Regions from separate parts of the Homo sapiens genome. Here region 2 is linked to region 1. Evidence: fine-mapped expression QTL. A gene starts in region 1. The other region holds a variant in brackets. All regions are shown on one strand. Distances are from middle to middle. Region 1 holds the start of TIGD7 (tigger transposable element derived 7). Region 2 overlaps ZNF200 (zinc finger protein 200).

The links.
Region 2: its variant is fine-mapped to the expression of TIGD7 in adrenal gland (GTEx, PIP 0.99).

Annotation. Positions count from the first base shown.
Region 1 is chr16:3,304,132-3,307,036 of GRCh38, reverse strand. TIGD7 (tigger transposable element derived 7) reads left to right here and starts at 1,607. Exons shown (of 2, transcript NM_033208.4): 1 at 1,607-1,825. ZNF75A (zinc finger protein 75A) reads right to left here and starts at 1,540. Exons shown (of 7, transcript NM_001302109.2): 1 at 1,394-1,540. RefSeq lists an enhancer at 1,517-2,046.
Region 2 is chr16:3,219,506-3,222,410 of GRCh38, reverse strand. ZNF200 (zinc finger protein 200) reads left to right here. Exons shown (of 5, transcript NM_198088.3): 5 at 1-86. Among named protein-coding and RNA genes, the nearest start is that of ZNF200, 14 kb to the left of the region's middle. The variant A/G (reference allele first, on the strand shown) is at 1,390.

The DNA of each region.
Region 1 (2,905 bases):
AAGGCTGCAGTGAGCTCAGACTGTGCCACGGCACTCCAGCCAGGGCAGCAAAACGAGATTCCATCTCCAAAAAAAAAAAAAAAAGTTATTTAAAACTTATGAACTGTTTATTTCTGGAGTTTTCCATTTAATATTTTTTGGATGGCAGTTGACAGCGGGTAAGTGAAACCCAGATACAGTGGGGGGAGGGGGTACTACAGAAAGTAAAAAAGTAGCCTATTTTCAGACAATGTCTCCCAAGTAAGCAACAAGATGCTCATCATTCTTTGCAACACACATAAAGGGTGCCATGCAGATGATTTATACGAATTTTGTTTTTTTTTTTGAGATGGAGTCTCGCCCTGTCACCCAGGCTGGAGTGCAGTGGCGTGATCTCAGCTCACTGCAACTTCCACCTCCCCGGTTGAAGCCATTCTCCTGCCTCAGCCTCCCGACTAGCTGGGATTACAGGCGCGTGCCACCATGCCCGGCTAATTTTTGTGTTTTTAGTAGAGACAGGGTTTCACCATCTTGGCCAGGGTGGTCTCGATCTCCTGACCTCGTGATCCACCCATCTTGGCCTCCCAAAGTGCTGGGATTACAGGCGTCAAACACCGCGCCAGGCCTATATGAATTTTTAACTGTGCTTACTTGATCTGGAGAAAATTACAGCTGACCTCTGTTTACAAAATATCAACTTGTAAAAAAGGATATTTTATTTACAAAATATCAAGTCGTATTTTCTTTCTGTCGCTGATGTTTATGAAATATCAACTCCAACAGGAGTTGGTGACGATGAAAGTGAAACTTTCTGCTGACTTTGTATTTCTCCAAAGGTCATTTAGACTTCTAAGGGGGGCTGAGGAGAGCCGTGAGCCTCACTTTTCCTGAAGTGAGCCAGCAGAAACGGCACCGAAATTCTGCCCAGGATGCCACCGGTATTCAAAGAAGTGGCCAGCTCCTTGCTGCCCACCCCGGTTCCAGAAGCAAAGAGACACTTCCTATGTTTTTGCATCAGTAGAAGCTGCTAGCCCTGAGGCTCAACCGACCGCATGACATCGGCCGGACACGGAAATGCCGGCGGAGGCGGGAAAGAGTCTGCGGGCGCAGCTGCAGGCACTGCTGCCCGCCAGCACTCGGATTCGCCACAGCCTGTGTCTGCGACAGGCGTGCCCGTGGGCACTGGGCAAGCGGGCAGTGTCCCAGCGAGCTTCAGCCGCGCCTCTGGGATACAGCTGCGAAAAGCGGGGAGAGAATGGTTTCTCGTGCCCGACGGTGGCCCCGCCTCAGGCTCCAGCCGCGCGGCCCGGAAGCGCCGCGGCCACCGCCTACGGAAAATGGCTGCCTCCCTGCGGCCGCCGCCGCTCCAGCGGCTCCAGGGTCGAAGCCATAGGGGAAGCCGCTTCTCGGTTACCTCGGCCAGCTTGGCTTCCGTGGAGGCCGCTCCTCGCTTTCTGAGGCTCAAACGCAAGCCACCGCCCGAAAGGCCGCCGATCTGAGGAGCGCAACCGCCAGCCCACCGCTGGCCTACCGCAGCCCTGTCCAGGTACAGAGCCAGAGCGCCGGCCGGAAGTGGAAGTGACGCTTTCCGAGGGTGGCGCAGGCCCGCCCTCTGGCTAAGGCGCCTGAGCCCGGCCTACTTCCTCGCCAGAGAAACTGCTGTCTTCCCCGGCGGTAGGGAAGGGTTAATGCCACCGAGTATCCAGACCCGCTGAAGCCTAGAGGGCCTTGTACCGGCTCACCGCGTGGCTGTCGCTGTCTCGTGTCCCCAGTGGGGGAGGCGTCGCACTGCCGCGTCTGTTCTGCGTGGCTGTCGGGCGGCGTTTGGTCCCGGGAGCCTCGCCGGGTAAGGGTCGCCTCCCAGCTGCGCGCGCCGCGTTCTCGGGCTTCCCGCGGCCCGGCCGGCCGTGCTCGAGCTGTTGCTGGGCTCGTCGCCGCCTCCTCGAGGAAGAGGCATTTTGTCCGGGTCGGGCCACTCGCTAGGTCAGAAACAGCGGCCCCCCGAGGGTTTTGTACCGTTTTCTAGGTCTCGTGACGCATTCCCCACAACTATTTTTTCTTGAGGTAGGTTTGAACCTGTGAAATAGGTTCTTTTTCTATCTCTCCTTGACAGAGAAACGGAGACCTAAGAAGTGACTTGCTCAGGGTCACATAGCTCAGCAGTGGCGGCCGCTAATCGGAAATAGCTCTCCTGTTGTGGTATCCTCTGCGTTTTCCACTCCAGTATTCTTCCCTGGAAAATGGGAACCTTGTTTTCATCTTATATCTCATGCAGCGCCTAACATAGTCACCTGGTAAGATAGGCATTCCACACATATTTACTGAATCATAGTTATAAGAATCTGAGTGTTTTGGGTGTTCAGTGATCTCTGAATTAATCCGTTTTTGTAATGTCAGTCTGTACCAGTTGAGGGATTATTTAATAAGTCCAGTATGAGTGGTTTCGGAATTACCAGTTTTTGTAACGTCAGCTTATACCAGTCAAGGGACTATTTATTAAGTCAGCTATGTGTAGCCAATATTGCAGAGTTGAGTAAGAAGTCTTTGTCCTTAAGCAATCTCTTGAAAGGACTGAGCAATTTCGTGAATATCAGTAACACAAGGGTAAGAATAGGACATAAACTGAATGCTGTGAGAACTCCAAGAAAATCCAAGTTGATTTGGGGTTGGGGGAAATTATAAAAGACCTTGAGGGATTTTGTCCACAGCAGGGAATGGAGACACTTTCCAGGCAGAGGGAAGGGTAGGAGTAAAGGCTTTAAAAGCTGGAAACATTAGACTGTGAGATCTTAGGTACGTTTTTACTGAGTTGGGCTGCATTTAGAGGAAGAGTTTTAAAAGTTAGAAAACGAGTTTATGTGGCACTTATACTGGAGTCCTTTGAATGGGAATGAAAAGAGTGCATTTAAGAAAGTAAATCCTGGCC
Region 2 (2,905 bases), 85 kb after region 1:
TGTTAATTTTCAATAGTTTGTTGGTTTAGTTCTGTTAACTTTTGGTAAAATGACACCATCTACAAAGAATAGTTTTTGTTTCTTGCCTTCTGCCTATTGGTCTTTTTTGTTTTGTTTGTTGTTATTAACATGTAATTCTGAGGTTTCTTGTTTTGGCACAAAGCATTCTGAAAGAAGGACATTCTATGATACAGTTCAGTCCTGAATCGTAATTTAAAAACAACAAATCCTCCACAACAGAGAAAGGCCACAGAAAAACTGTCTTTACCAACATTGTATTTCAGGCCAACAGGAAGTACCCTGTAAAGCCAGCAAAGCGAACAAAACAGGCTGCCCACAACGTTATTCGCTTATTTGAAAGTCTGACCAGTGCACTAGGACTGGGATCCTGAACTGTGTTTCCAGAGTCGGCAGGCTGTTACCATGTGCAGTGGACCTGCCTGTGCACCCAGAAAAGTAGCTGCCAGGAAGTGAGTGGTGAGAGAGAGTCTCCACTCACTCTTTGGTACCCCTGCCCAGAGTCGGGTATTTTATCAGTCCTCATGCAGCCATGGCACAGTACCCGAGACAGTTAATTTTTTCTTTGAGACTGGCTCTGTTGATAAGGCTGGAGTGGGGTGATCTTGGCTCGCTGCAACCTCCCGCCTGCTAGGCTCAAGCGATCTTCCTGCCTCAACCTCTTGAGTAGCTTTTCGTTTAAGTGTAGGTGGGTGAAGCCACCACAACCCACACCATCTCATGTGTAGGGGACCTGCCCATGCATCCAGAAAAGTAGCTGCCAGGAAGTGAGTGGTGAGAGAGAGTCTCCACTCTCTCACTCTTTGGCAGCCCTGCCCAGAGTCGGGGGTTACATCAGTTCTCATGAAGCCATGGCACGGTACCTGAGACACTTTTTTCTTTAGTTGAGACTGGCTCTGTTGCTAAGGCTGGAGTGGGACGATCTTGGCTCACTGCAACCTCCACCTCCTAGGCTCAAACAATCCTCCTGCCTCAGCTTCCTGAGTAGCTTTTTGTTTTTTTAAGTGTAGGTGGGTGAAGCCACCACAACCCACACCATCTCCTGGACTGGGGAGGTGCCCACGGTCAGGGTTGCCGTCAATCAGCACCCAGTGTCCCAGAGGGCAGGACATGGGCCGCAGGGTTTCCTTCCGCAATAGTGAGGCTGGGTGGGAATGAGAGGAGCGCCCCGACCAGGACCAGGGGCCGCCCCCAAACACGAGAGCCCCTGGGAAGTTGTTGGATGAGTAAGTTCTGTTACCTAAGGAGCCTGATCACCAGTTAAGTTGAAAAAGTAAACAACAGTGAACAGTTTCCCAATATAGCGGTAGAGCGAGAGTTGGAAAATGTAAGAGACCAAAGATCCAATTCCAGTAGTAACTACAGAAAATA[A/G]GCCAGGCGCAGTGGCTCACACCTGTAATCCCAGCACTTTGGGAAGCCGAATCAGGAGGATGGCTTGAGGCCAGGAGTTCAAGACCAGCCTGGGCAACATAGTGAGACCCTGTCTACGAAAAAAAAAAAAAAAAAGATTTGGTTGAGTGCAGTGGCTCAACGCCTATAATCCCAGCACTTTGGGAGGCCAAGGCAGGTGGATCACCTGAGGTCAGGAGTTCAAGGCCAGCCTGGCCAACATGGTGAAACCCCATCTCTACTAATAATACAAAAAGTAGCCAGTTGCGGTGGCAGGCATCTGTAGTCCCAGCTACTCAGGAGGCTGAGGAAGGAGGATTGCTTGAACCCGGGAAGTGGAGTTGCAGTGAGCCGAGATTATGCCACTGCACTCTAGCCTGGGCTATAGAGTGAGATACCATTTCAAAAAACAATTATTTTTAAAATTTAAAAAACATTATCAAGACGGCATGGTGGCATGTGCGTGTAGTCCCAGCTACTTTGGAAGCTGAGGTGGGAGGATTCCTTGAATCCAGGAGTTAGAGACCAGCCTGAGCAACTTACTGAGACCACATCTTTTTTTTTTTTTTTTTTTTTTTTTTTTTTAAGAAACAGGGTCTCACTCTGTTGCGCAGACTGGAGTACAGAGCTGTGATCATAGCTCACTACAGCCCTGAACTCGTAGACTCAAGAGATCCTTCCGCCTAACTCTCCCAAGTATCTGGGACTACAGGGACATGCCACCTCACCCAGCTAATTTTTTTATTTTTATTTTTCTAGAAACGCGGTCTTGCTATGTTGTCCATGATGGCCTCAAACTCCTGGGCCCAAGTGATCCCCCTGCCTTGGCCTTCCAAAGCGCTGGGCTCATCTCTTTAAAAAAAAAAATCAGAGTAAATGGGAGGTTGACTCCAGCATGACAGTGTGAGAGTGCCTGTAGTCCCAGCTACTTGGGAGGCTGAGGCAGGAGAATCTCTTGAACCCACAGTGAGGGGAGATCCAGCCTGGGTGACAGAGCAAGACTCCATCTCAAAAAAAAAAAAAAAAGACAAGTGAATATAACTTCAAAGAAATGTGGACATCATTAAGTGCACCAAATACACACAATGGGAGTACCAGAAGAAGAGAGAAAGGAGAGGAAAAAATTTTGGAAAAATAATGGCTAAAAATTTCCCTAATTAATTAATTAATTAATTTTATTTTTTGAGACGGAGTCTCACTCTGTCGGTCAGGCTGGAGTGCAGTGACACGTTCTTGGCTCACTGCAACCTCCACCTCCCGAGTTCACGCCATTCTCCTGCTTCAGCCTCCCGAGTAGCTGGGACTACAGGCGCCCACCATCACGCCCAGCTAATTTTTTTGTATTTTTAGTGGAGATGGGGTTTCACCGTGTTAGCCAGGATGGTCTTGATCTCCTGACCTCGTGATCCACCCGCCTCGGCCTCCCAAAGTGCTGGGATTACAGGCTTGAGCCACCGCGCCCGGCCCCAAATTTATTAAAACATAATAATCTATACAG